Linked DNA regions of Homo sapiens. The protein of the gene in region 1 interacts with the protein of each later gene in a biochemical or structural test. Each region holds a gene or a part of one and is shown in the gene's direction. Other genes may lie near its edges.

The links.
Region 2: the proteins of COL4A1 (region 1) and PDGFB form a complex in vitro, tested with the Homo sapiens proteins (one study listed by BioGRID).
Region 3: the proteins of COL4A1 (region 1) and BGN form a complex in vitro, tested with the Homo sapiens proteins (one study listed by BioGRID).
Region 4: the proteins of COL4A1 (region 1) and PDGFA form a complex in vitro, tested with the Homo sapiens proteins (one study listed by BioGRID).

The regions. Positions count from the first base shown.
Region 1 is NC_000013.11:110,297,149-110,304,170, reverse strand, and holds part of COL4A1 (collagen alpha-1(IV) chain isoform 1 preproprotein), read left to right. Parts: intron 1-7,022. UniProt on the Homo sapiens protein: Type IV collagen is the major structural component of glomerular basement membranes (GBM), forming a 'chicken-wire' meshwork together with laminins, proteoglycans and entactin/nidogen.
Region 2 is NC_000022.11:39,227,976-39,234,997, reverse strand, and holds part of PDGFB (platelet-derived growth factor subunit B isoform 1 preproprotein), read left to right. Parts: intron 1-1,473; coding exon 1,474-1,563; intron 1,564-3,170; coding exon 3,171-3,376; intron 3,377-4,769; coding exon 4,770-4,914; intron 4,915-7,022. UniProt on the Homo sapiens protein: Growth factor that plays an essential role in the regulation of embryonic development, cell proliferation, cell migration, survival and chemotaxis. Potent mitogen for cells of mesenchymal origin.
Region 3 is NC_000023.11:153,497,970-153,504,991, forward strand, and holds part of BGN (biglycan preproprotein), read left to right. Parts: intron 1-6,647; exon of another isoform or gene 6,648-6,651; 5' UTR 6,652-6,662; coding exon 6,663-6,900; intron 6,901-7,022. UniProt on the Homo sapiens protein: May be involved in collagen fiber assembly.
Region 4 is NC_000007.14:516,846-524,077, reverse strand, and holds the start of PDGFA (platelet-derived growth factor subunit A isoform 2 preproprotein), read left to right. Parts: upstream 1-4,231; 5' UTR 4,232-5,009; coding exon of another isoform or gene 5,010-5,076; coding exon 5,077-5,139; intron 5,140-5,748; exon of another isoform or gene 5,749-5,773; coding exon of another isoform or gene 5,774-5,875; intron 5,876-6,090; exon of another isoform or gene 6,091-6,219; coding exon of another isoform or gene 6,220-6,279; intron 6,280-6,587; coding exon 6,588-6,684; intron 6,685-7,232.

The DNA.
Region 1 (7,022 bases):
ATCTGCAAGCTCTTTATATTAATAGATGGAATTGGACTAGGGTGAAGGGACATAACTTTAAGACCAACCAGAAGACACAATGTTCATGTACTCTGACTAGATTCACAGAATTATCAATGCTATATATTATTAATAGTCACGTGTACACAGGATGAGTGTGCTTTAGGCACCAGAGGACCTTACATTTTATACCTGCTTTTAAGCAGATGATTTGGGGGTACTCATCAAACTCTATACCTCAGTTTCCCTGGCAGGTCTGTCCCTTCCTCACACGGACCCGTTTGTGCCTTCCTTCATTCCACACACACATCGGGAACACCTCCTTCCTGCCATGACCTTGCCAGGTGCTGGCCATGCGGCAGGGACTCACCCCCACTCTCTGTCCTCAGGAAGGTCAGGTGAGAAATATTGGAAAAGAAACAGACGAATCCAAGTCAGGCTGGTAAATGTCACAATCAGGGGAATCGAAGGGCTATAGGAACACTGAATCCAGCTTTGGGGAACTCAGAGGAAACTTCTGGGAGGGGCTTCCGCCTCTGAAATATGAGGGAGAAATAGGAACTATACACCAGCATGTCATTTCCATGTGCACTGTGATGGTGTACTATACACAGAAGACATGGTCATTCTGCCTGTCTGCTCTCAAGTCTAAGGGTCTTTGCACTGAAAGATGACCTTCAAGTTTGCTCCTTTGAGATACCAAAATGTCATTGTTTCTGTGATTAACAATCTTGGTGGCTGAACTTTGCTCTCAGAGGGGTGGAAAGAATTGGAAGGGCAGGGTTTAGGAGACCAGTGTTAAAAAAGAGCTCCCAGCTCCAACTGAGGCCCCAGTATGTGGTCCTGTCCCTTTTCTCGGAGGTGGCAGGTAGGCAGGCAGGGGATGTTTGGAAAGTTGCGGCATGGATGACTGATTCTAGTCAGGAGTGCCTTTAGGAACTGACCCAGAAAACCTACCCTTACTTGGGCCAGGCCATGAGGGAATTCACAAAACCCTACATTATTCATTAACAAGGCTGTTGGCAAATTTCTGAGAACTGGCAAGGATGGTCATAACAAGTTCAGTTATTTAGTTAAGAGCTGGTAAAGATTTTGCAGACAAATGGAACCCACCAGTGATGATCTAAGACAAACCTTTGTAGACAGTGGAAGAACATCAAGAAGTGGCTAAATGACAACAGTGGTTTTGATGAATTCTATGATATTTGTTATAATAATTGTTCCCCAAATTGAAGAAGGATTAACCTCATTAAAATGTCTCACAAGGAGGTTTGGTATTTTGAGTTCTTGGGCTAGAGTCAGCTCAAGCAACAATAGAATGCCTAAAATAATGTTAGAGCATTGTTCTTCCTGCTATTATTAAGCAACCATGAAAAAATGTCAACTATAGAACAATACAAAAGACATATTCCTACCATTCTTATGCATACAATGAAAAGGGATGTCAACCAGAGCATGTTTTAATGGTGAATTTCTTCTGAGTCTTTTGACACTGTAGGAATGACTTTGGGGTGAAGACTTTGATAGTCTGGTACACAGTGAGCTGGTTCCAGCCTCGTTTCCCTCCATTGTTCTCCTGGTCCTAACTCTGGGACATGGGTCCCTCCTAGCGCTCTTTCCGTGTCTCTGCTTCTGTCTTCTTCCTCTTCCCATGCCCCTCAGTGTGGGTGAGCTGCAGGGGCAGCTCTGCGTGGTTCTCTTTGTTCTTTGCACTCTCTAACTTCCACTGGGGGTCTGCTCCATGATGCACCATTACTCCCTGAAGGGGACTCCAGAACTCCTTCTTGAACTCCAGTTCAACGTCTTCACATTTCCACGCGACGCCTCCCCTTGGCTGTCTTGCTTTGATCTCAAACTGAGCAAATATGTTCAGGACTGAACTCATTTTTTACCTGGACTGACAACCCTTCCCGACTCTGCCATTTTGGTCCTGGTGCCCTCTGATGTTTCTGGGTACAGAGCCCAGAGACTATGAGGCTTTAGCCTTTCCTCTTCTTTATCCTCTGCATCTGCTCAGTCACAAAGTCTCCTACTTCTTTCTGGATGCTTCCCAGAGGTGCCCGCAGCTTTCCCTTCCCACGGCTGGGACTCCCTTCCAGCTCTCTTTGCCTTGTGCCAGGATCACCACTGAACCCTCATGGCCCTGCCCCTCCTCCCAGCTCTCGTGCTCTCCAGCCCATTCCTCAGGCTGTGAGAGGCTAATTGCCCTCAATTCCCTAAGTTATGGTCATAGACTTGCTGGTTCAGGATCTGCCATGGCCACCTACTATCTCACTGGGGTTCCCCCTCTTTTTGGCTTGGCTGTGCATTCCCTTTGTGGTACGGATCTGTCAAATTTTTCTGGCCTCGTTCCTTGCTACTCCTCGACATACGGCTTTGGTAACTGTAAGGAAGGATAATCTCTGCATTCCACAGAAGCTGTTTCATCTTCTCCTGCTCCCCGGCCTGCAGTGTCCTCTCGTCTTCCCTCGGCTAGCACGCATTCCACTGAAGCTCCTGAAACAGTTCGCAGCCTGCCCCTTTTCCACGTGATCCCCTCTCGAGTCAGAGTGGTAATGTGAAATATTGTTGACTATCTGGATTTTAAAAAATCCAGCCTAAATTGCAATTCTTGCTCTGCCATTCAGTAGCATTGTAATCTCTTTGAGCTTGGAGTCTCTAATACATACAGTGAGGGTAGTCGCCATGTCTAGGGAGAGCATGTGCACATGAAGTAAGCACTCGAGCGGTGCTGGTTGTGGTTGCTGCCACATGGCTTGGAGTTACATTGTCATTTGTGTCTTGGTTCCAACACTTGCCAGGACATAACTTCTTTTTAAAGCATCCCACCATGTTTGGGAGAGTGCCCGACACAGAGGAGGAAATCAGGAATTAATTACTTGTAATTGGTTCCAATTTTCTAGCTGCCATTCTCTTGGGAGCCCCCTCCCCACCCCCGGAGTGTCCTAGAGGGAGCTGCCTGCTGGCTTACACTGTCCACCCCTGTGGTATTACTAGTGAACACAAAGATGAATCTGGGCAAACGAAGGTGTTTCCCCTTAATTTGGAATTTGGAGTAGATATTCCACCACAGACTAAACATGACTTGGAAATATGTACACTGCTGAACACTTTATGTAAATAGTTTATTCCGTGGTTTAGTAATTTTCTCTGTGGAAGCTTTGCTGGATTTGGTTTTTAATCTGCATACTATAAAAACATTTCATTTTATCTGAGTTTTAAAGCTCACTTGATCTTTAAGGTACAAGACAAATGCCAAGTGTCCAAATCAGATATTAAAGCAATCTTTTCCAGGCCACTTGGGCTTTTGTGTTTCTGTTGTTGTACCTCTTACCTGATAAAGGAGAGCTATTCAACCTCCTCATCTTCTGTTGCTTTTAGAATCAGTACATTGTTCAGTTGTAAAATTACCATTGTTTAGTAATACATACACATACACATCTTAGTGTACTGTGGCCACTGATTCCAGCAAGGACCACAGCCAGAGATACTGGCCGTGAGCTGGAAGCATCCAGTTTGATGTCAGTTGCTCTATTTTCATTTCACCAAATACACCAACAATTGGGGAAGCCATTTGTGTATTCACTCATAGAGAGTGCAGCTAACTTAAATAAACATTGCTCAATTCAGCAGAAGATCTGGAGGCACACTATTCCTGTATTGGACACAATTAAAATTGTTTAAAGATTTTATTAAGTTTCTGCTTTAGAAAACAAGGATATTCCTTTGTGAAGAACAAAACCCAGTGTGTTCCAGCTGTAATTCAATGTTTTGAAAGCTATTTCCACAAACTTTTCCCAGCAGCCACACTCATCCCTAGAGATGATCCACATTCAGAAGAAAATGACAGATGATGCACGTTCAGAGGAGAATACTATGTGTCTTCATTGCACAAAGATAAACCTTGCCTAATCCTCACATTCAGCACATGGGGCATTTTTGAAGGTACTAGGTCAGTATTTGTTCTCTGTTTCAGCGTTGTACAGATAAACTCAATGATAACCATTTTGGTATTGTTTCCTTCATATTTATTAAATAAACAATATTAATATCTAATCTAATTGGTGGAAGATTTGGCTATTACATCTCTAATAATGCTTTATTTATATGTATATTACTATGTAATATAAAACAATCAAAATTTATTTTCAGATCCGCAGTTCCCTTGTGTGCAAGTAATGCCTGATTTCTGAGCACAGTGGCATTTATTTTCATATCATCCAAGAGCACCAGCTTTGAAATGTCATTTTAAAATATAAGCAACTCTTTTTTATCATTAGCTTGAATTTTTGAGTTGCATTTTAGAGTTTTTTAAAGAATGCAATGCCATTTTAATGTTACAGAATTAATACTGAGTTGTGTGTGACGTATTTGCTACCACCAGACTAAGGACCCTACGATTAGTCTGGCAAAAGAAAAGTCTGTTTCTCAAAGAAGCTGGCATTAACGGGTCAGACGTGCACACGACTTTTTGGAAAGGCGATGGCAACGTCTCAACTACATCCAGAGAGGAGACAGTCCAGGGACACACTGGTTGTGCACCAGTCACAGGCCCTGCAGGGAAATGTGTGGGCCCTGGTCTTCCTCATGTGTATGATGGGGATGAGGGCAGTTGCTTTCCTTAGGGAGCAAATGTAAGGATTAAGTGAGTTAATGTCTGTGAAGCATTTATACCGAGCTTGCTTTGTGCCAGGCACTACTCTGTTAAATTAAAGACAAATTCAGAAGCATAAACAGCAAAGTAATGACATCAAGACCCCTTGGGGCTGGAAGGGCCCACACAAGGATCTCCTTCAGCCGTTGTCCAACATGAGCTCACAGCAGCATCAGCTGGAGGGCTCCACGAAACAGCTCCAGAGCTTCTGTTTTTGGAGGTGTGGGGTATGCCGAGAATCTGCATTTCTAGCAGGTGAGGGTGCGGCTACTGACAGCCCGACTTCTTTCACTGAGGCCGCCGCTTGAGCAGCCTTAGGTGCAGGCCTGCAGTGTCGGGACGTTAGTTTGCACTCACTTTGAGGCTGAACCCCTGCGTGTAACATGGCCCTCCCCGTTCTCTTTGTCTTCTTTTTCCGTTGATTTCTGCTCCTGCCCGCAATCCCGGTTCCAGCTGTGTGGTGCAGTTTGGAAGGTCAGATGGGCGGGGGAGGAAGGTTCCAGAAACATGCATGTGGCGTGTCAGGAAGTGGAGGCTCCTGAGTGGATCTGGAGAGGGCTGGGCTGATGGTAAATGAGCACAGCGGTGCCTGGAGCAGACTCTGCCCTCCGTGGCTTTCTCCCCTCTTCGGGAGCCTGGCGTGGGTGTCTCAGAACTGATCTGCTTTCAGTCTGAGTTTTGCCATCCTCTGCGGCGAGCCTGCGAGCTTGCACACTTGGGCAGGATGCGCTCAGCGCCCTAGCTCAGAGGCCGACCCAGGGCAGAGCCAGTCAGCGGGCGCTGGGACGCAGGACTCTGAACATGGGTCCTCTGCCTCCCTCCCACCTCCTCCAGGCCCGGCCACTCGGCTTCCTGGTGAGGAATTCTTAACGACCGCCAAATCCGGTTTCTAGAGATAAAAGACGGTTGAAGGTTAGTGGTTTAAAATAACTCCTAAATTTTGGTCCGGAAATGGCCTATACAATGAAGATAAACTTACCAAAGCAGGAAAATGGGTCAGTGATGGGGGAAAATACCATCCACGGAATGGTTAGTTCAGCCTCAGCATCCGATTTATTTCGGACACATACACAAACCCGGTCCAGAATCAATAATATTAACTGGAAAAGGGGATGACACGGTTTTTATTACGTAGGATATGTAGTGGGCGATCTTCTTGAAAGATTTCTCATTCCTAGCTTATCTTTAACAAACATGTTTTTCATGTAAACATTATGCTAGCGCCAGATGCTTTTTATCAATTGTTAAAGCCTGTCTAGTCTGACTAAATAGCCATTGGGCGCCTCCATAATAATTAGATTTTGTTTTCCCAAATACTTGAAAATAATAAGATTGTATTTCTTCAGGAATTTAGGCTTTTAAAACTTTTTTTAAAAAATTCTATAATTCATACTTCTTTATTATTTCATGTTGATCATAGATATTTTCTCTTTTTTCCATGGAGGTTATCATCAATTAATATATTATGATATATGGATTTTTTTTTCTCTTGACTAGATCATTTATTTAAAACATAAATAACTTTGGGTATTGTCCTAGGCGAGAAGCCAATTTGTAACCAAAGGCCCATTTCTCTCTCTCTTTTTTTTTTTTACATCAGCGAAAGTAAAACAAGAGTAAGAATTCACATGAAAACAAAGTAGGAAGTAATAGTTTGATAGCTCAGTATCTTGCTTTTGGCCTTTAAAATTTGTTCAGTAAGTGTGTGTTCAGCGCTTACTCTGAATTAGGAAATATGCAGGTGGTTGGAATTGTTCTTATACTTTGCATTCGGACATGTGCCTGAGTTAAAGTGAGAATAATTTTGGTAATGGTATGATAGATGTTACGTTGAAAATTTAGCACTTGCACTGTTCTCTTCTGGCTCCAAATCTTTTCATTTAAGTTCTGAGACTGCAAAAGGCATCAGTTTCAGACTCTGGAGTCAGATGAGATGGATTTGAATTCCTGATGACAGTTTTAGTGATGGATTTTAATAATAAAATTAATAAAAATAAATTTATTTGCCCAAACAGCAACTAGCTGTTTGACTTTGGGCAACCTTCTTAACTTCTTTGTGCCTCAGTTTCCCCATCTATCCATGAGGGATAATAACGTATTCCTTTATTGTGTTGTGAAGGTCGCAGACACGATACTGGTAAATGAGTGACTGCCATATCATAAGATTTCATGCTGTGAAGTAGATCTTTGGTCTTCCTCTTGTTTCCTGGCATACAATTCCTGAAATTCTTGGAATCCGAAGTGATAAGTGTCTTTGTATGTTAATGAGTTGACTGGTGGCTGGCCCCCCCACCCCGCAGCTTCAGAGTTAGGCTGGTCCCTGGGAAAGACCAAGGCAGGCTAAAGGATGGATTCAGCCCCACTCACA
Region 2 (7,022 bases), on another chromosome or scaffold:
GGAGGGGGCCCCAGCTGGGCCCACCTATTGTTCGCCAGGGCCCCCACCCGATGTCTCCCACAACCCCCACCCTATGCCCGACTGGCCGCCCCTGGCCACACACAATGGGGCAACTTCCAAATTTAGCCTTTCTACCATTTCTTTCCAAGCCTTTACACCCCCACCCTCAGACGGCCCCTCCACACCCCTGGTGGGGGTCGGGATCTTGGAGATGAGGTTTCAATAGCAGGCCTGTTTCAAGGCAACCATGTGGCTATTTTTTCCTAATCAACTTAACCTTTCCACAAAGCGCATCTTTTCCCCATCTCCTCCCCACCAGGGACATTCCAGAGATGGCAGGGAGAAAGGAAAGGAGCCAGAGGGACAGATAGGCTCGTTGACGTAGGGGCTGTCAGGCTGGACGGAAGCGGACTAGTCATCAGACTCCCTGCAGTACCCGGGACGGACAGGCGGCAGGCGCCTTTGTCTTGGATGGGGCCAGTGGGTCGGTGCCAGAACTGGAGCCATGGGGTGCTGTGTGGAGGTGGCAGGAGCGTGTTCCCAATGCCCCTTAGTTTATTTGTGGCTCCTCACCCATGAGAGAGACAGAAGGGTCTGTCCACGCCTTAACATCCAGCTCAGAGGCCTCCCTCAGCCCTCACTTCCCAGCAGCCAACCTCTGGCCATGGGCTCTGGAAAGGACCGATGTCTCCAAGGAGGGCTGATGGGACTGAGATGGTGCCCAGGCTAGAAAAGGGAGCTGTCATTTGTGACCAGAGGAATCAACAGACGGCTGGGGGCAGAGGTGGGGCAACAGTTTAGAGAAGGGGAGGGAGACAGACACAGATACAGATACGGTGTGAGGGCCCCGGAGCTAGAGAGACCAGGCCCTAGAAGGGTGTGTGGCAGGGACTCCCCACCCCCAGCAGGCCCAACTCCCACCCCTCTTCTCCTCTTCTCTGTCTTCAGCTCCCACCCCCATCCCTCTCCCTCCCTCCCTCCCTCCGTGGCTCCCGCCTGCCCAGCGCGGCCATTGTCCGGGGCTCCAGAGGGGCTGTGTTCAGGGCATGCGGTCCCCCTGGGGCTTCTGGGAATTTCTCCATTCAGCACTTCCTATGGGAACGCTGGGTGGAGGGGCACTGGAAACTGGCCTTCAGTGCCCTAGGTCCCGGCCCCGCCCTGGAGGCCGAGGAGGGTTCACTTACAGTAGCAAAGGGGAAGGGTTATTTTTAACTCCACTGACATGGGTTCTGGCCAAAAATGTTGGCTAAAGAGCCAGGGATGCAGTCAGGATCCTGGGCCTGCAGCTGTCCTGGGGGCTGCTTGGAGGGTCCCTGCTCAGGGCCAGGACCCGTGCATTTATGGGGGCTGGAAGGAGGGACTGTTCTCTGGAGTGGGGGAGAGGCAAACCTCCCGCCTGCCCAGACACCCCGGCGGAGGGAGCCCCTGCCCAAGGTGGGGCCGCCTGGTGTCTGACTGTGACTTCTCCTGCAGAGGAAGATGGGGCCGAGTTGGACCTGAACATGACCCGCTCCCACTCTGGAGGCGAGCTGGAGAGCTTGGCTCGTGGAAGAAGGAGCCTGGGTAAGACTGAGACACCCAACAAGGGTCCTTCAAATTAGCATGGGGGCCAGGGAAAGAGAACGGGGGCGGGCAGCCAGTCGGAGGGCCCCGAGGGTCCTCTTACAACTCCCGTTCCCCCCACATTCAGGACTGAGCGAACTGAGAGAGTAAAACCATCCTTAAATGCCTGTGTTCAGTCATCACAGCCCCTCGCCCCCACACTCTCTGGTTTCTAAATATAGTGCTGCAAAGCTCATTCGTTCCTTATTTCAATCCTGGAGGTAGATATTATTAACCCCATTTCACAGAGTTGGAAACTGGGGCCCAGAGAGGGTAAAGAACTAGGCGAGGTCACACTGCTAGGGAGCGGTAGGGCTGAGATCCCAACCTGCTCCCCTCACTTGAACCCAGCGTGGTCCCTGATGGGCTATGGGTATCTCCTGTGGCAAAGGGCCGCGGCCTAGGCTGGTAGACCTCGAGCAAAGCCTGGAACTTCCTCCTGCTCCCTTGCAGAGACCTAAAGGAGACCGTAGATCATTAGGTCCCAGAGAAACCCTCCCAGGTGAGGCAAATGTCCACTCAAACCCCTCCTCCTCTTTGACACCTGGAGTCCCCAAAACACTGCAGTTAGAGGCTGGGGGAACGATGAATAAGAGTCAGGTGGCCTGGGCCGGGCATGGTGGCTCACGCCTGTAATCCTAGCACTTTGGGAGGCTGAGGCAGGCAGATCACGAGGTCAAGAGATGGAGATCATCCTGACCGACATGGTGAAACCCTGTCTCTATTAAAAATACAAAAATTAGCTGGGCGTGGTGGCAGGTTCCTGTAGTCCATGCTACTTGGGAGGCTGAGGCAGGAGAATTGCTTGAACCAGGGAGGCGGAGGTTGCAGTTAGCCGAGACCACGCCACTGCACTCCAGCCTGGCGACAGAGCAAGACTCCGTCTCAAAAAAAAAGAAAAAAGTCAGGTGGCCTGAGTTCCACCCCCAATCTATGAATGTGGGCGGACGGGATATTCAGCTCTCAGAGCCTCCTGTCCTCTGTACATGGATAGCATCGGTAACCTCAGTGCTTGCTGTAGGCAAGGCTTACTCACTTTACACCTTAGATCCACATGGGAGGGAGGTGCTGTTATTATCCCATTTCATAGAGGAGGAAGCTGAGGCTTTGAAAGCAGCAGTGATGCAGGAATCCAAGGCACCGTGAGACAGCAGTGCACGCGTGGTTTCGAGCTAATATGGTACCTGCATAAAAACCACATGTTGGGCAAGCCCATAAATGTGTAAAATCATAAAGAAGAATAAAATAGTCATGTGCCAGCAGAGGGAAGCGGACATTTACTAAGCATTTACAACATGCCCCACACTCTGAATTTTCTCACTTGAAACTACAGTGGTTCTTGGGTGTAGATCTCATGGTCCCATTTTCAGATGGGGAAACACAGGCTTAGAGTGGCTCAGCCATCTGCCCAAGTCCCATGGCTAATGACAGCCAGGACTTGAAACCTGAACCCTGGGGTTGAAGGGCGTGAGAAAGAGCAGTCCCGGAGGCACCCGCTGAGCTCCCCTGCCAAGTGGGGGGACTCTGGACAGGCCTACGCTCCTGACCCAGGTTTCGTCTCCTCCCAGGTTCCCTGACCATTGCTGAGCCGGCCATGATCGCCGAGTGCAAGACGCGCACCGAGGTGTTCGAGATCTCCCGGCGCCTCATAGACCGCACCAACGCCAACTTCCTGGTGTGGCCGCCCTGTGTGGAGGTGCAGCGCTGCTCCGGCTGCTGCAACAACCGCAACGTGCAGTGCCGCCCCACCCAGGTGCAGCTGCGACCTGTCCAGGTGCGTAGGCTCCGCGGCCCCCCGAGGCTGGTCCCGGTGGTGGGTGGAGACCACCCTTCTGGGGCTCATACCTGACCAGGCTTCCTTGACTGGGCAGAGTGGTGTGTCGAAGGACATTCCTGATTTGTTCCTGGGCTCTGTCCAGAGAGGCCCACTCTTGGGAAGCTCTTCCTAGGCAGGTGGACTGAGGCCGACCATGAGTCCTCTGAGGTGGCTCAGGCCACTGTAGCCAAAAGCCACAGACAGACCCCCCGGGCTGGGCGAGGTGTGGAGCCAACGTGAAGTAGGGATGTCACCTCCTTTACAAGGACAAAATCGCAAAACGTCCCTTGAAGAGCCGTATCCGCAAACATTTATCTGACACTCAGAATGTTTTGGGGAGCTACTCAGGTTCCCCCAAAGCTCTCCCTATTCAGGGCTGTCTTGAGAAAGGCTCAGATGGGTGGCCCTGCATCTTTGACACCTGCTTGTCTCTCTTTGACAAGCTGTGTCTTTAATAAAGAGAGTGCAGAGAGGCCCACCAGGTGATAGACACTGCGGAGCTGGGGCAGGTCCCCTGACAACAGTGGAATGCTGATCCTGCTTTTCTTCGGAGGGACGGGGGATACATACACTGGACTCAGGGAAAATTCTAGAGTAGAGGCTGTCTCAGGGAGCACCCTGGTCTCACCCTAGTCGGGGCAGAGTCAGAGAAGCTGCTGCTTCTGCTTCTTGTGGAAAGATTCCTGCACGCCCCAGGCCAGCCTCGCCCACAGGCTGGGCAGTGCGCATTTCTCTAGCTCAGCACCGGCCCTTGCCCGATGCTCTGCCTGCTTAGCCGCACTTCCTTCTCCTGCCACCAGCCCGTGGCCTCTCCTCCTGCCCACCTTCCCTCCCTGGCTTGGGCCCCACGCCTGAGACTACGAATGTCACTCCACCCCACTGCCCACTCTCGTGGTATCTCCTGTCCTCGATGCTTCCAGCTCTATGGATGGACACCTGACATCTGACCTCCCCGTTCCCACCTCCCTCCTAGATGAAGCCTCCCCCCACTTCCTTCCAGACAACCATCTCCCGCCTCTGCCGCAGCCCTGACCTTGGCTGGCGCTCCGGGAATGAGGATACCGCAGGCCCCAGCTCAACCCGGAAATGCCTTTCTGGCTGTCCCTCTCTGGGGGCACTGAGGGGGGCCCCAGGTCGGGAGGGCTTGTTTTGATGGAAAAGCTACGAGAAGGGCAGAGGTCAAGGTCCTGCTATTGTTTGGGCCAAAGCTTTTGCCCCACAGCCTGCTCTCCGGGCTTTCGAGGAAAGATTGCTGCAGGGGACACCGGGGTGGGAAGCGCAAGCCATTCGGGCTTCCCGGGCTCCTGGCTGTGTGGTCTCTACAGAGGCATTTTGTGGCTCTGTCCTCCAGGTGAGAAAGATCGAGATTGTGCGGAAGAAGCCAATCTTTAAGAAGGCCACGGTGACGCTGGAAGACCACCTGGCATGCAAGTGTGAGACAGTGGCAGCTGCACGGCCTGTGACCCGAAGCCCGGGGGGTTCCCAGGAGCAGCGAGGTAACCACCTTTCCAGGCTCAGCCCTCAGCCCCCTTCCCCTGCAGCAGCTGGGGGCAGGGGCCGGTCTTAAAAATGGAAATGGGATCAGGCCCGCCCCCGGTTAAATTCACGGGAGGCTTTCTTTTCATCTTGCTGAGACACAAGCCAGGTTCCTCCCTGGCCTGAGAGCCCTACATGAGGATTAGCCCCTGGCTGGCTCTCTGGTCTCTGCCAACCAGTACCCTTCACCTGTGCCACCCCCGCCGGGCAGGCCTCTTTCAGTAACTAATGGAGTTTCTGCCTCAAGGCTTTAGCACACACTGCTGTGGCTGAAGAACACTTCTCCCAGCTCTCCACAAGCCTAGCTCCTTCTCTTCATTAGAGTCTCAGCTCAGAAGTCACCTCCTCCTAGAAGTCTGCCCTGACCACCCCATCCAGAGCAGCGCCATTTCCAGTCTTGCTACCATAGCCCCCTGCTTTGTTGGATGTGGGGATGGGATGGTGGAAGGAATCTGGGCCTGGATGAGAGAAAGCTCCGCGCACATCAACTTCCGATAGTGAGCAGCTTGTCCTGGGGATGAGAAATCAAACGAATTTCTCGTATCCTTGAGCGGGGGAACCAGGACCAGTGGGGAGAAGCCACTGGAGAGAGATTTCAGCTCCATATGCAGAACAGCTAGCTGGTGATCAGTCAGGGGTGCAAGGTGGAATTGGCAGCATTGTGAGGCATCTCTACAAAAAATACAAAAATTAGCCAGGCATAGCGGCACACGCCTGTAGTCTCAGCTACTTAGGAGGCTGAGGTGGGAGGATCGCTTGAGGCTGGGATGTCGAGGCTACAGTGAGCCGTGATGGCACCACTGCACTCCAGCCTGGGCAACAGAGCAAGACCCTGCCTCAAAAAAAAAATGATTAATACGATTAGATGAGCGTTTAAAAAAATCACGTAAGTGATAGTTCTTTTTCAGTAACTTTCTATTGTTAGGGACAGGACAATCTTTTCATTCTCATTTCTTATTAACAAGACCCTGAAGACGGAGCCATTTCTTGGCATCTGTGTCTTATTCCCAGAGCTGAGCTGAGTCGCTGGATGCCATGGAAAGGCTGATCATATGACAGCTTCAAACTGACATGTTGTAAATTATTGAGTTAATATGGAGGGTGATTTCTCTATTAAGGGAAAATTATATATATCTATATATATATATATTTTTTTTGAGGCAGTCTCACCCTGTCACGCAGTCTGGAGTACAGTGGCACAATCTTGGCTCACTGCAACCTCTACCTCCTGGGTTCAAGCAATTCTCCCGCCTTAGCCTCCCGAGTAGCTGGAATTACAGACACATGCCACTACACCCGGCTAATTTTTGTATTTTTAGTAGAAACGGGGTTTCACCATGTTGGCCAGGCTGGTCTTGAACTCCTGACCTCAAGTGATCCACCTGCCTCGGCCTCCCAAAGTGCTGGGATTACAGGCGTGAGCCACCACGCCCAGCCTCTTTCTTTTTTAAGAGACAGGGTCTCTCTCCATCACCCAGGCTGGAGTGCAATGGCATGATCATAGCTCACTGCAGCCTTGAACTCCTTCCTGGGCTCAAGCGAGCCTCCCTCCTCAGCCTCCTGAGTAGCTGGGATTACAGGCATGTGCCACCACGTCCAGCTAATATTTTAAGTTTTTGTAGAGATGAGGTCTTGATTCGTTGCTCAGGCTGGTCTCTAACTCCTGGGTTCAAGTGATCCTCCCACCTCAGCCTCCCAAGGTGCTGGGATTACAGGCATTGAGCCACCACGCCTGGCCTTCTTTATGTTTAGAGTGAGTTACTTCATGTATTTGTTTGACGTAATTTTCTAAACCAGTTTCTTGGGAGGCGCATTATACCAGTGAAACGTAGATGATGTAAAGTCCCATCATTTTAGTTCCGGTATTTTGGTTGAGTATGACGGTGTTTCTGTCACCTGTCCATGGGCCTGGCTAAGGCTTGGTAGTGTGGCTCTCTGTGATAATGTGGTCAGTGTCAGACCTCCTGGGCTCAGATCTGCGTGTTGTCACTTGAGCTGTGTGGTGACCTTGTGCTTGCCTGGGCTTGGTATAGCCCAGTGTCCTGCTGATGGCCCAGGCTCTGGGGAA
Region 3 (7,022 bases), on another chromosome or scaffold:
GAGGACTGCAGAACCCTCCCACTCCCAGCTTCCCACCTGCGCAGCTCTGATCCCAGCCAGCCCAAGGGGCAGGGTCAGGTCCCGGCTCCCTGGCAGGCCTGGTGAAGGTGCTGCCCATTCCCATGAGGCTCATCTCTGAGGCTTAGGGGCCTGGGGCTCTAGCCAGCCTTCTTGCATGGAACTCTCCTGGTCCACTGCATCTTAAGCCTGAGCTCCACTTAAACACTGGCCTGAGATAAGCTGGAGGACCAGGGGCCCAACGGACTCTGTGGGCCTCTTGAACTTGCCTCTGCTGGCCATCCCAGTCCTGTTTGGTCCCTGAGGTGTTCAGATGGGCCAAGGGGAGCATGGCGGGCAGACTCCTGGGTGGCCAGAAGATTAGAAGGCAGCCCTGTCCCTGGAGGCAGGGGAAGTCTGGGAAGCCAGTGTGACTTCTATCCTCTGGAAGTCTGAGTCCCTGCTTGGCCTTGACTGCCATCCCATGGTTCTTGGAGGCTGCCCTCATGCAAAGAGACACACACCCATGGGAGCCCAGCAGTCCCAGGAGCCTGAAGCTAAGCAGGCTGTGGGCCACCCTGGCTGGCTGAAGGAGGCTAATCCCAGCCCAGCCTGAGCCCCCGGCAGAGAGCGGGTTGCGGCAGGGAGGGGCTGCAGGAAACCTTCCCCTCCCCTCCTGGCCTTGGTGGGCCTGTACCAGGGAGGGAGGGAGGCAGGGCCCCAGGCTCTGGGGGGCAGGCCGGGAACACCTTCCCTGGGGCCCTGAAGTGCTCGCCTGGGGAGACGATGGCTTTTCCAGGAGACTCCCTGCAGACAGAGGCAGAGGTGAGAGGCTGGGCGGGGGCTGCCCTGCTGGCTGTGTTGGGGCTGAGGAGGGGCTTCTGGATCTGTGGGCCATAGGGAGCTACTGATGGTCCTCAGAAGGGCCATGCTTCCAGGGGAGCCCCCTGCACAGCCCCGAGAGTGTGAAGCGTGTCAGCTTTGGGGCCTGTGGCACTGTGTGCATTGGGAGAGGGTGGGTCCAGACATGGGGGCAAGGACACAGACGGACAGACAGACAGTGTGTGCAGCCCCAGCTCTGCTGTTTCCTCACCGTGTGGCCTTGGGCAAGAGTTTGGGGCCAACTTCCTGAGCCTCAGTTTACCCCTTCATCAAGTTCTAAGAGCATTGCTTCCTTCTTATAGTCAACGGGGGACGGCAGGATGCTAAGTAAAGAAATCACATGAGTCCCCTGCTCTGCCTCTGAGAGGTGACAGCATCCTCCCTTTTCCTTGGAGACTCTAGCAGGAGGCCCCGGATCTCTTCGGAGAGTGGGAGGGGGCAGCAGTAGTCCGTGTGCAGAGGACCAGGAGCGCACAGTGGGAAGGGCTGAGTCCCGCACTCCGCCGACTGTGGGGACAGGCTGGACCTTGACATGGGCGCCACAGGCTGCAAAGGGCTGGCACAGAGAGGTGGGAGGTGGCTGGGCGCATCAAGGGAGAACTCCACCCTTGTCGCCACCCTGCCAGAAAACCTCTGGAAAGGATTTGAGCAGCAGATGAGCCGGGGTTTCCCAGCCCCTCCACACGTGGCTGCAAGGGGAGCAGACGCCCAAGCGTGGCTGCCTGAAGGGCATGCTCCGGCAACGGCAGGGGCTTGGAATGTGGCACAAGGTCCACCCCTCCCCACTCCAGCCCCCAGCCCCTCAGGCAGCCACTCCCACAGATGAACGCACACGCCGGGCTTTGGCAAGGCCAGGGAGGGTACACATCCCCTCTCTGGTTGATGCCCAAGTACAGGCTGGAGCCATCGGCGGGGAGGGACTGGTGGACTGGGGCCTGGGAGAGTGGCAGGGGGCAGGCCGGGTGTCAGCGGGGGCACAAGCACCAGGCTGCTGGTTGAAACTGGGCCCAAAAGGCTTTGGAGGCCAGAGGGGAGGGGAGGAAGGACACAGTCCCGGGGACCCCGCAGGGCTGCGTGGAAGGTGGCACATGTGTCAGAGTTCAGGTCGGGTTGCTCAGGGGGGCAGACGCCCAGGGCTGAGGCTGCGGAGACAGCATCCGGCGTCTGCCACTTGGCAGCTGTGAGCCACACCATCTGCAGGCGAGCTCCCAGGGCCCGCCAGACCTCAAGCCCTGCTCCCGCCGCCCTTGGCCTGGCCTGAATGCCTGGCACGGACCCTCCATGTTCTCAGAGGCTGCCAACGCATCTTGTTTGGCTGTGACCTCGAGCAATCCAGTGCAGAGGACTGCGCTAGCTTTCAGAGGGGCAGACAAGGAGGGCCCTATTGGGGTGGTGGCGGAGGCTCCAGGAAGCCCAGCCTCCTCCCTCACTCACACCTGCGGTCGCCAAACCTGGGGCTTATGCCATTGCCGCCCCTGTCCTTTGCTCTAAAGAGATGGTATCCAGGGAGCTCAGGGCACACTTTGGTGGGGCTTGAAACCCTCCCTGAAGTCCCTGAAGACACACCCAGAGAGGCCAATGAAGGGAAACTGAGGCCCAGAGGCCTCAGTTGTGGTGGTGGAGAGTTGAGGACTGGAGGGACTTGCTGTGGGTCTCACAGGATCTGACTATGGGGTATTCCTGCTTCCTGGGCTGGGGTCCCCGCCTGCCTTATCTATGTGTGGATATATGTGTATGTATGTGTATATGTATACATATGTATATGTGAATGTGTGTATGCATGTGTGTATAGATGTGTGCATGTATGTGTGTACATATGTGTATGCGTGTATACAGGTGTATATGTGCAGGTATGTATGTATGTATGTGTGCATGTATGCATGTGTGTGTGTGTGTACGTGTGTATAAATGTGTATGTGTGCGTGTGTGTGCATGTGTGTGCATGTGTGTATGTGTGCATGTGTGCATGTGTGTATACATGCATGCATGTGCGCATGTGGATGTACATGTGCATGTATGTGTATAGATGTGTGCATGAGTGTGTGTGCATCTGTGTATATATGTGTGTATATGTGTATCATATGTGTATGTGAATGTGTATACATGGGTATGCATGTGTGAGTGTCTAGGTGTGTGCATGTATATGTGTGTACATGTGTGTATAGGTGTGTGCACGTATATGTGTGGATGTGTGCATGTATGTGGATGCATGTGGATGTGTGTACATATGTGTTTTGTATAGGTGTGTGCATGTGTGTGTGCACGTGTGTACATATGTGTTTTGTATAGGTGTGTGCGTGTGCACGTGTGTGTATGTGAGCGTGTATGTGTGCATCTGTGTGTGTGTTTGTGTGTGTATGTGTGTACGTGTGTGTGTGTGCATGTTCTGGCAGGAGGGAGGGGCTTGGTGTGAGGTGGTGGGGAGAAGGCAGGGGCCAGGCTTTGGGAGGACAGCTGAGCCTATACTGCCAGGACCTCCCAAACTGCCACCCCCAGTCTTGGGCATTCAGGCTCTCACAGGCCCAGAGACATGGCTGGAGCCCTGTGGCTGAGGAGCACAGCTGAGAGCTCAGGCGGGGCCTGGAGGCGCCAAAGCTGAGTTCCAAGTCAGGCTGAGTGACTTGGGAGAAATCAGAGCCTCTCTCTCGGCCTTAGCTTTTGTGTCCATAAAATGGGGATACTCATCAGGCCAGCTCCAGGGGATCCTATCCTTCCCCCCAGGCTCCCCTGGCTCCCTCTGACTTCATGGGCCCCTTGCTGCCTCCTGTGGGCTCAGACACGGAGCCTGCCCCTTCCTCGGGAGAGGTCTCAGTTTTGTGCCAGTTCTTTGAGGGGAAATGAGGGATGTGCCGGGAAGCCTGCCCGGCCCCCGCCCCTCCAGCCTGCCCACTGCTTGGGCACAGCCATGAGCCATGGAAAACCAGCCAAACCTTGTCCTTCTGCCTCTGTCACGGGGCCCGGGTGTATGGGCCTTCCAGCCCTCAGCCTCCCTCCCCGCTCTGAGGGAACCTCTTCCCCTTGCCCCTTTCTCAGTCTCTTGGAGACCCCCCAGACATCCTACTGTATCAGGCAGCCTGCCTCCAGAGCCCTCGTTGCCCCACAGCTGGTCCCGGGAACCCGCCTGAGACCCCGATGGCCAGTCTTGCCGTGACTGGCCTGCCCTGTGCCTGTGCCCCCTGCCCTGGTGGAGGGCCCGATTCCCTAACAGGAGGGCCTGCAGGGAAGTCCCAGCTCCTGGGGAGACCCCTTGCCCCGGGGCAGGAGTCCCTGTAGAGTCCTCCTCCAGGCCAATGCGTGGGTCCTGGGGGGCTCCAAGCTGGCCATGGTCAGATGGTCCTCTGTCCCCTCGGCCTTCCCCAGCCCCTCCCCACAGCCTCCCGTAGGCCCAGCCGGACCACCCCAACCCTACCTGTCCAGGTGGACTGCCCACCCTGGAGCTTGCCAGGGCTCTGGCGGGGTGTCCCAGCCCTGACTCACTCTCCCTGGGAGGTAGCGGCTTTGGCAGGGGCATCGGCAAGGAGGGGCAGGGCAGTCTCCTCCCTCCCCCACTCCATCTTGCTCTCCTGCTTCCACCCTGCCCTTCCTGTTCTCTCCCACTGCTCCTCCTCCTCCTCCTCCTTCTGCCCCCGGGTGTCCACTGGCACTGGGAGAGGGTCCTACAGCGGCAGCAGGCATCGGAGGCCCTGCCCTGCCCTGGAGGAAGGGAAACACCATCCAGGTAGGTGAGTGTTGAGCCTTCTCCCTACTTGGGGGCCAAGACCCTCCGGGCGGTTCCCCTAGGTTCTGCTGGGCCGGCCTGAGGCTGGCAGGCCCTGGGCTGCAACTGTGGGATCTCAAGGCTCAAAAGAATGAGGGAGGCTCGGTGCTGCCCCAGCAGGGGCCTCCTGGTGACCCCAGGGGTCAGCATGAAGTCCAGCTCCACATGAGGGGGAAGCTGAGCTAAGCCTTGGGCTCCGACTCCCACTTTGCAGTGTGGCCCAGGGCCTGTGGGCTCAGGAGGGCTCCGGGGCTGGCTGCGGAAAGGCCACTCCACAGGCCTGGCAGCCGCTATAGCCACAGCCTCACCACAGGCCCCTCTGTCCACAGGTGTGGGAGGGCGCATGGGTGGCTTCTAGGGGGGATGCCAATGCAGGGGGGACGCGTGCCAGCAGATGCTCCCTGGAGCACCCGAGGAGCTGCATGGGGGCGACAGGACAGGCCTCCATCCCAACCCTCTCCTGGGCTTGTGCTCAGACCCAACCTGGCCCTGAAGTGGCCTCAGGCCCCCGGCCCGCTGGTAGCAAGGACTCCAAAGCGGCAGCCCCGGGCAGCCAGCCCAGCCCCCAGGGCAACTGGGGAAGCATCGGGCAGGGCGGGGCTGCTCATAGGGTGCTGGCCTGGGGGCAGAGCCCCCACCTCCCCACGGCCTCCTTAGACCCCTGCAACCAGCAGCTGGGCTTAGGGGGCTCACCTCGCTCTGCTGGAGCCCCAGACAGCCCCTCCCCAGCTAGTACTGGCCCTAAGTGAGGGTCTCCTGGGCGTGCGACTGCTTCAGGTCTGCCAGAGGCCCCTGCTGCCCAGCTGGGCTCCCCATCTCCAGATGCACCGAGGGCCACCCCAGGCTGGGTGGCAAGCAGGGCAGGCATGTTTATTCCCACTTAACAGATGGGGAAGGTGAGGCTGGGATGAGACCTGGGCCTTTGCTGGAGAGTCAGGGTGGATGAAGTGGTGAGAGAGGCAGGGCTCCAGCCTCTTCCTGTAGGGCACATTCCCGGCTGCCTCTGGACGGGAGACCGTGTCTGATGAGGAGGGAGGAGGCAAGCAGAGGTGGGTGCTGGGGGCAGGCTCGGGCAGGGCTGCTTCGCCTCCACTCCCACTCGCCGCCTCGGCCTGGGGGGCCTCAGGCAAGCCTGACCCTGCCCTGCCACCCTGGCGGCAGCCTGCTCCCCTGGGGGGCCTCTCTGGGCTGCCGAGGCTGTGGGCAGGGAGGAAGGGTGCGAGCAGATCTGGGAGCTCCAGGGCTGTTTGGGCCAAGGCGGTGTGGGCGGGGGGCTGGGGCGGGTGGTCCAGAGGAGGAAGCCAAGGCCCAGGGGCAGTGTTGGGGGCGCCACGGCCTCCACCTCGGGGGCCTCCACTCAGTGCTGCCTCAGCCAACTTTACCCACGGCCTCCAAGGATACCCCCTCTTTCTCCGCCCTGCCTCCCTACCTTGGCCTTAGAGGGTCTCTGAGAAACGTGGGCAGGGTGGAGGGAGGAAGCAACTCAGAGTCGCCGCACTCAACTAACTTCATCCACGCTGCCCTGAGCCCAGAACTCAAAGGAAGGATCGGCCCGGGTAGGAGGCCACAGTGATGTCCCCAAAAGTGAATTCTTCAAAGCCCTTGAGGGCCAATGGCTAGGATTCCTCCTCCACCTCCTCCACGCAGCCTCATGGACGCCCCCGCCCTAAAGCAGGCTTCTGGCAGACTCAGAGGCGTGGGGGCCTGCAGACTTGCTGATGAGGAGACATTTCATCGCCTGATTAAGCCAAGTCCTGTCCGGGATGGGGAGGGGGGTAGTGGAAGCAGTGAAGGGAGTGGAGTGGAGGGGGCACCCTCCTTGCCAGCAGCATCCACTCCCTTCCTGCCTGGAGCCCTCTGCCCACACTCCGCCCTCTCCGCCTCCCGCTCCAGGGTCTGGCCGTCCCTGGTGAGGGATGGGAACGCAGTGCCACCACACACGCGGAACACCAGCCCCTGGCATGGAGAAGACAGGTGGGTGCTGGTGCTGATGATCCCCTCGCCTCTTCCCCCAGGTCCATCCGCCATGTGGCCCCTGTGGCGCCTCGTGTCTCTGCTGGCCCTGAGCCAGGCCCTGCCCTTTGAGCAGAGAGGCTTCTGGGACTTCACCCTGGACGATGGGCCATTCATGATGAACGATGAGGAAGCTTCGGGCGCTGACACCTCGGGCGTCCTGGACCCGGACTCTGTCACACCCACCTACAGCGCCATGTGTCCTTTCGGCTGCCACTGCCACCTGCGGGTGGTTCAGTGCTCCGACCTGGGTTTGTCCCTGAGTGATGGGGAGCGGGGCATGCAGGGAGGCTCAGGTGCAGCCTGAGAGCCCCTTCTGAAGGGGACACATGCTGGTCCTGTGGGACGGTGGCGAGCATGATGTAAGTGTAGG
Region 4 (7,232 bases), on another chromosome or scaffold:
GTTTGTGTATTTAAAATAAAATGATTTAATAGGGAGTTAAAACAACATGGAGAGAGAGCCTTCCCACCCTGCTGGCGGGGCAGTTATCTCCCTTTCTGGAGAGTGTGAACTGGAAAGGCCTGATCCCTAGTCGCTGGGGGCCTGAGATAATGACTTAATTAATGCCTGCGCTGGGCAGTTTTGATCTTCAAGGAGTCCAGCCCACTCGGCTGGTGTTGCTTTTGGATTAATTGCCTAGGACGAAGAAAGCCTTGCCCAGAGATAAAGGGAAACGTGGGGTTTCGTCATTACAAATTGTTCTGAAATCTGCTCTGGCGCTGGGGGCAGAGGCCAGGATTTGGGTGCTCAGCTGGTCCCCCCACCCCCAACCCAGGTGCAGGCAGGTGGCCAGCAGGGCGCTTGCCCAGGGCACGCTAGCGCAGCTTTTCCTGGGCAGGTGGGCAGGAGGGAGGCTTCCCGACAGTGGAGGCAGCTGTGTGCAGTGACGGCAGCTGTGTGCAGTGACGGCTGTGGGCCTCACGCTTTTCAGATGAGGGAACAGACACCCAGGGCAGTCTAGGGACAGAGCTCACCAAGGCCAAGGTCAAGGGGCAGAGAGCGGAGGGAACTGGCCTCTGCCCCCCTCCCTGCACCTTGGAACTGGGGATCCAGGGGGTGTTGGCTGCCGCCCCTACTCCTGGGTGGCCACAGCGTCTTTCCTGTTCCTGCCTGTACACCCCACGTACAAATGCCCCTGCGAATTGAGGATAGTCTATATTTACCGAGGTTGCAGAGGTACCCCTGGGGTGCTGAGCCCCGCTCCAAGTCTTCGCTTAGAGTTGATGCGTGAGTGTCCATGAAATTATACAAGGAAAGAGCTTGGCACCTGGCGCCATCGACGTCGCTGTAAATGTCAGCCGTTACTACTACTACTAAATAACAACGACGGCGATCGCTGCGTGCCTGCTGGTGCCAAGCCCCGGAGGGGCCCCGGACACGCAGCCTGGGTGGGGATGGGTATGAGGGGGCAGCGCTGGACTCGGCGAAAGTTTCTTCCCCTCTCCAGTCCCCTACCCAGAGGAATGGCCAAGGCCTTTCCCGCCCTCCCTGGGTGCCAGGGTCTTGGGGAGGGGCGGGAGGCAACCAGTCCCGGGCAGACGTCCGGCCACCCGCCCCTGCTGCGCGACGGCCCCCCTCGCTCGGCCTATTTGGGGCACCTGACTCACGGTAATTATGAGCCCGCGGGCACGTCGGGGCGCGCCGGGAGAGGCCGGATGCACCGGCTCCGGGGGCGACCGGACATCCCAGGCCGCCAGGTGCACCTTGCTTCCCACCAGCACCTCCCCGCACCCGCCGGGAGCTCCCCGCTGCTTCCGCCAGGGGCCCCGGGCTCACCTCGGGGCGCCCACGGACTCCCAGACGCGCGCCTCAGCATGGGGTGCGAATGTTTCGGGGGCGGCGCGCGGGGCGCGTCTGCCTCCCGCACAAAGCCAGGCTCTGTCCCGGGGTCAGCGCCTCTGTCTCCCGGGCCTGGGCGGGGACGCCCACGCCTCCTCCGACGCGGGAGTATATTTAGCCTCATTATCAAATGTTTGCAGTGAACTGTGTGAACCGACTAATAGCGGCTGGAAGTGAAACTCGATTCCTGGCCAGAAAGAAGCATGTGACCGCCCCCGTCTGCAAGGATCGCGGCAGGGCGGGCGGGGCAGGTGCCGCAGCCTCCGCGCGCAAAACCCGCCGGCGGGGCCCGGGTCGCACCGTCCCCTCCTGGGCCGAGCACCTGAAACCCACCTCGTCCCTCCGTCCCCCTCCCCAGGGGCTGCAATGAGGACGCTGGGAGTTTGAATGGAAACGAAGGCCGGGGAGGGGGGTCCGCGCGGGCGTGGGTTTTTTATCCAAGTCGGTGACCTCTTGGTTAAGTCAGCCCTGCGGTTTCAACGCCCAATCCCCCCAAAAAAGCCTGTGGGGGTCCACGTCTCCTTGTGTCTTCCGGGGATCCGGCGGAGAATGTGGCGGGGCCGGGCAGGGGGGTCCCAGTCCCACGCCGGGTGCGTCGTGCCCCGAGTCTCCCCAGAAGGCGGCTGTCGCGCGGCTGCACAAGTTTTCGCCTCCCTCGCGCGGCCGCTGTTGTTGTGGTCGCCATGGCGACGGGTCGCGGTTTTATTTTTAATAGCGGCCGGCGATTAGAGAGATGCCTGCACCGCTTTCGCCTAAGCTCTGCGTCCCCCGCGGGTGAAGCACCCACGCCCCGCCCCAGCCCCCGCCTCGCTCCAGCGCCCCTTGCACGTCCCCAGGTGGCCCTAAACTCTAGCTGGGCGCACCCGTAGCTCCAGGCCGGGCAGGGGAGCCGAGGGAAGCAGCCATCTAGGCCCTCAGAGGCGGCGAGGACCCCCAGGATCCCTCAAGCTGGGAGGGACGGGTACCCCATCCCCAATACAACGCGACCTTCCTCCTTGCCTTCCACACCGTCTTACCGAGTCCTCTAACCCCACAGAGGTGTCCTCGGGCCCCCTCTGCGCGCGAGCAGTCCGAGGCCCAGGAAGACAGGATGCGCGCCACTCCGGGATAACTGGCCGAAGAATGAGGCCGGGGTCCGGCCTGCGTCCTGGCCCTGCGAGTCCGGCTCTTTCCAGAAGCCATGCAGTGGGTGTCCCCTCCCAAGCCGCAAGTTCCCCCTGGAGGGACAAGGCCTGGCTTTAAGGGGCTCCTCCACGTTTCCAAGGCTCCCCTGGTTCTGTCCCGGTCCCGCTTGGTCCTGACCACCCAGAGGGCATGCTTGACCGCGGGGGTCGTGGTGTGGGGCTGCGGCCAACGGAAGGGAGAGACGTGGGGAGGGGGCCTGCAGGTGTGTGGAAGGGCGCGTGTAGACGCGACCCACTGGGAGCGGAGGGAGAGGCGTCGCTCCCCAAATATTTGGGGGAAGGGGAGAGCCCCCGAAGCGCTCTCCGGATTCGGCCTTTGAAATGCTAGAGCTGGCCTAGCTGGGGATGAAAGACCGCCCGCGGGGCTGCGCCTTAACGGCCTTTGTCTGGAGGGAGGGCGACCGCGACGGGGGCAGGGGTTTAATCGACAGGGTTGGGGGTGACGGCTGGGCCGGGCGGGATTCTCCGCTGCTCACCCAAGGAAGCGTCTCCTGGGCTCCAGGGGCCTAGGCCGTCTAGCCTCGGGGTCTGCACAGCACGCCACCCCGCTGGACCCGGTACCAGGACGCGTAGACCCCCTGGCAGGGCACTGACGAGCACCTGGACCTGTAGTCAGGGTCCAATCCCTCCTGGTCTAGGGAGGCGAAATCCATCCAGCCCAGGCGCACCCGCCCTTTCTCGGCGTGGGAGCCGTCTAGCCACGCTCAGACCTCGGCCTCCGCGCGCGTTCCTCCCCCGCATCGCGCTCTGAGCTGCGCCTCGGCCGGAGGTGGCGCTCTGTGCGCCCCACGGATCCCGACGCGGGAGGCTCAGAACCCGGGGGACCCTCACCGGTGGCTCCTTTCCCTTCCATCCCCTCGACTTCCCGGCTCAGGGCGCGGCCCTGCCTTCGGCGCGGGAGTGGGGGACTGGGGGGCGCGGGGTCCCAGGGTGGGGACGAGGCGGGCTGCAGGCCCTTTCCCCGACTGGAGCTCGCTCCCAAGTGGAAATGTGGGTGGAGGGTCCTCATTCAGATGCCCCAGGCCTCGGATCCTGGGCGGGGGCGCGTGGCAGCCGCCAGGTGAGTGCCCCAAACCCGCCCCCCTCCTTCCCCAAAGACTGACTCCCCCTCCTTTTATGGAGAGAGGAAGGCTGGGGCCCTGGATCCGAACCGTGGAGAGCGGCCGGAGCGCCGGGGCGGGGGCGGGGACCGGCTCTCTGGCCCTTTTTGGCGCAGCAGCTCTGGGCGCTGCCCGCTGCCGCCGCTGGGGCCCGAGAGAGGCGAGCCGGCGACGGCGGCGCTTCTGCGGCGGCCTCCTCCCTCCCCACCCGGTGCCGCAGGATTGCAGCTGGCACTGGAGGGTGGGCAAGCTCGAGGGAGGGGCGCGGAGCCCCGGCGCGGAGCCGGGCGCGGGGCTTTGATGGATTTAGCTGCTTGCGCGAGCGCGTGTGTGCTCCCTGCCGCGGCGGCGGCGCCCGGGCCCTGCCGGGTCCGCACGAACCCCGAGCGCTTCCGAGGTGCGGGTCCCAGGCCCGGAATCCGGGGGAGGCGGGGGGGGGGGGCGGGGGCGGGGGCGGGGGAGGGGCGCGGCGGCGGCGCTATAACCCTCTCCCCGCCGCCGGCCGGCTCCACACGCGCGCCCTGCGGAGCCCGCCCAACTCCGGCGAGCCGGGCCTGCGCCTACTCCTCCTCCTCCTCTCCCGGCGGCGGCTGCGGCGGAGGCGCCGACTCGGCCTTGCGCCCGCCCTCAGGCCCGCGCGGGCGGCGCAGCGAGGCCCCGGGCGGCGGGTGGTGGCTGCCAGGCGGCTCGGCCGCGGGCGCTGCCCGGCCCCGGCGAGCGGAGGGCGGAGCGCGGCGCCGGAGCCGAGGGCGCGCCGCGGAGGGGGTGCTGGGCCGCGCTGTGCCCGGCCGGGCGGCGGCTGCAAGAGGAGGCCGGAGGCGAGCGCGGGGCCGGCGGTGGGCGCGCAGGGCGGCTCGCAGCTCGCAGCCGGGGCCGGGCCAGGCGTCCAGGCAGGTGATCGGTGTGGCGGCGGCGGCGGCGGCGGCCCCAGACTCCCTCCGGAGTTCTTCTTGGGGCTGATGTCCGCAAATATGCAGAATTACCGGCCGGGTCGCTCCTGAAGCCAGCGCGGGGAGCGAGCGCGGCGGCGGCCAGCACCGGGAACGCACCGAGGAAGAAGCCCAGCCCCCGCCCTCCGCCCCTTCCGTCCCCACCCCCTACCCGGCGGCCCAGGAGGCTCCCCGCGCTGCGGGCGCGCACTCCCTGTTTCTCCTCCTCCTGGCTGGCGCTGCCTGCCTCTCCGCACTCACTGCTCGCGCCGGGCGCGCTCCGCCAGCTCCGTGCTCCCCGCGCCACCCTCCTCCGGGCCGCGCTCCCTAAGGGATGGTACTGAATTTCGCCGCCACAGGAGACCGGCTGGAGCGCCCGCCCCGCGGCCTCGCCTCTCCTCCGAGCAGCCAGCGCCTCGGGACGCGATGAGGACCTTGGCTTGCCTGCTGCTCCTCGGCTGCGGATACCTCGCCCATGTTCTGGCCGAGGTTGGTGCCGCCCCCGCGCCCCGTCCCTGCGCCGGCTCCTCCGGCGCACACCCCCCGCCGGCTGGGGCGCCACGGGCTCTGCAGAGAGCGTTTTGGTTCCTGCCAGGGTGGTCGATGTTTAGATTTTCCCAACTGGGTTCTATTTTCTGCCATGCCTAAGTGTGTGTGGGGAGTTTCCAGCGTGTTGCGTCGGTCGCTCTGCCTCGGGGGGACCGGGGAGCAGCGAGGTGGACGAGTGGGCAGAAACTTCGGGGGGCGCAGTGTCCTCTCCGGGGAAGGGGAGCTGGGGCGCAGCGGGCGCTGCAGCAGCGGGGTGCGGGGAGCGGGGAAGGGGGTGTGTGTGAGCCGGCGGAGCCTGGGGAGGAGAGAAGGGCGGCGGATAAATAGGTAGGGGCGGCTGCTGCGGAAGCCCCTGGCCGGGCAGGGTGGGCAGCGCCAAGCTGCAGCCCTCGGTTCCCAGTCCCCAAGCCCGGCGGGGCTCAGGGCCGGCGCAGTCCCGCCCGCCCGGGCCTGCTTACAGGTGGCTGAGCGAGGCGAGCTGGGGCTGGGCCAGGCGTCCGCACCCTCCCACCGCGGCGTCCCCGCCCCCCCATCCCCATCCCCATCCCCATCCCCGGGAGCTTTGCTGTGATGAATGACTTTCCACAGCCCCCGTCGTGGGAACTTAGTGCTTCAGGCTCCCCAGCGACCCCCGACTCTCCTTAAAAATCGGGGAGGGGAGTGGGGGAGGCCAGAGGTGAGGGTGGTCTCCGCAGGGCACGGAGAGCTGCGCGAGGTGGAAGTTTAACCCTCGCTTTCCCTGGAGGCTTCTTCTCCCGGCCGCCGGCTGGATTTGGGCGTCTTAGTCGGCGCTAGGGCCGCGGCTGGGCCGGAGCCCGGGGTGGGGCGAGTGTGTGAGTGAGATGTGTGTGCGCGTGTGTGTGTCTGCGCGCGCGTGCGTGTGTTTGTGAGACGGAGAGACCTCTCCACGGGTTCGGCCCGGGATTCCGGGGCGTGAAATTTAAGCCCTGCCTGGATTAAAGTGTTAGGGCTGCCGTGACTCTCGCCGACCCGTGACGCATTTTAACTTGATCTTTCTAGATGTTGATCTCACTATTAAATCAGAAACTTTCGGCCCCCTCGCTGCCCCCTAGACCTTCTGTAACTGACACCCCGGGTGGAGGGGCCGGAGTGCGGGGGCTTTTGTCTGAAAATATAAAGGGGGGGGGGCTTTGATTTTGCAAAGGGCGGAACATGGATGCGGGTGGAGAATTTGGGGTCTCTTCCAGCCCCACCCCCGGCTTCTGGTTCCAGGGCCGGGGCGAGGGCTCCGCGGGGGCTGGGGCGGGGACTGCGGCCGGCGCTCGCGGGGTCTCCTCGGGCCCGGGGCGGCGGCGCTCCTGGCGGCCGGGGGCGCGTGCCGGCGGGGTCGGGGCCGCGGGCGCTGACCGTGTGGCCTCTGCTTGCAGGAAGCCGAGATCCCCCGCGAGGTGATCGAGAGGCTGGCCCGCAGTCAGATCCACAGCATCCGGGACCTCCAGCGACTCCTGGAGATAGACTCCGTAGGTAAATCGCGCCCCTTCCCTCCGCGCGCGGGGAGGGCGCGGGCGGGCGGCCTGTGCGCCCCGAGCTGGGGCCGGGCGGGGCGCCGCGCAGGAGCGCACCGAAAGGTCAGAATCCAATCCCCAGCCATAAGCGCCCGGGCGGATGAGTCAGGAGTTTCTCTTCCAGTCTCCACTTTCTCTCCCAGCGGCGGCCGAGGGCTGCTCGCTCGCCCCGGGATTGTTTTCGCCTTTAAGGAAAACGCCGCGTGTGTCACACAAAGTTCAGCCGCGGCCTCCGCCAGGTGTGCGGGCCCCGCGCCTGCCCTCGGGCCGGGGGAGCGGCAGGATCCGGCCCAGACCCTGGGCGCAGAGCCCTGGCCCGTGCGCCGGGCGGGCAGCCCGCGGAGCGAGGCCCCAAGGGCAGGCGCGGCTCCCGGTCCGACGGGCGGGCGGGCGGAGGCGGCCCCCGGGTCAGGGCCCGGCCCCCTCTGTAATCCCTGCGAGCTGGTGCCGCGTTCTTGCCGCAGGGCTGGGCCTCTGTGGCTGCAGAAGCCGGTGTCTTTCTGTTTT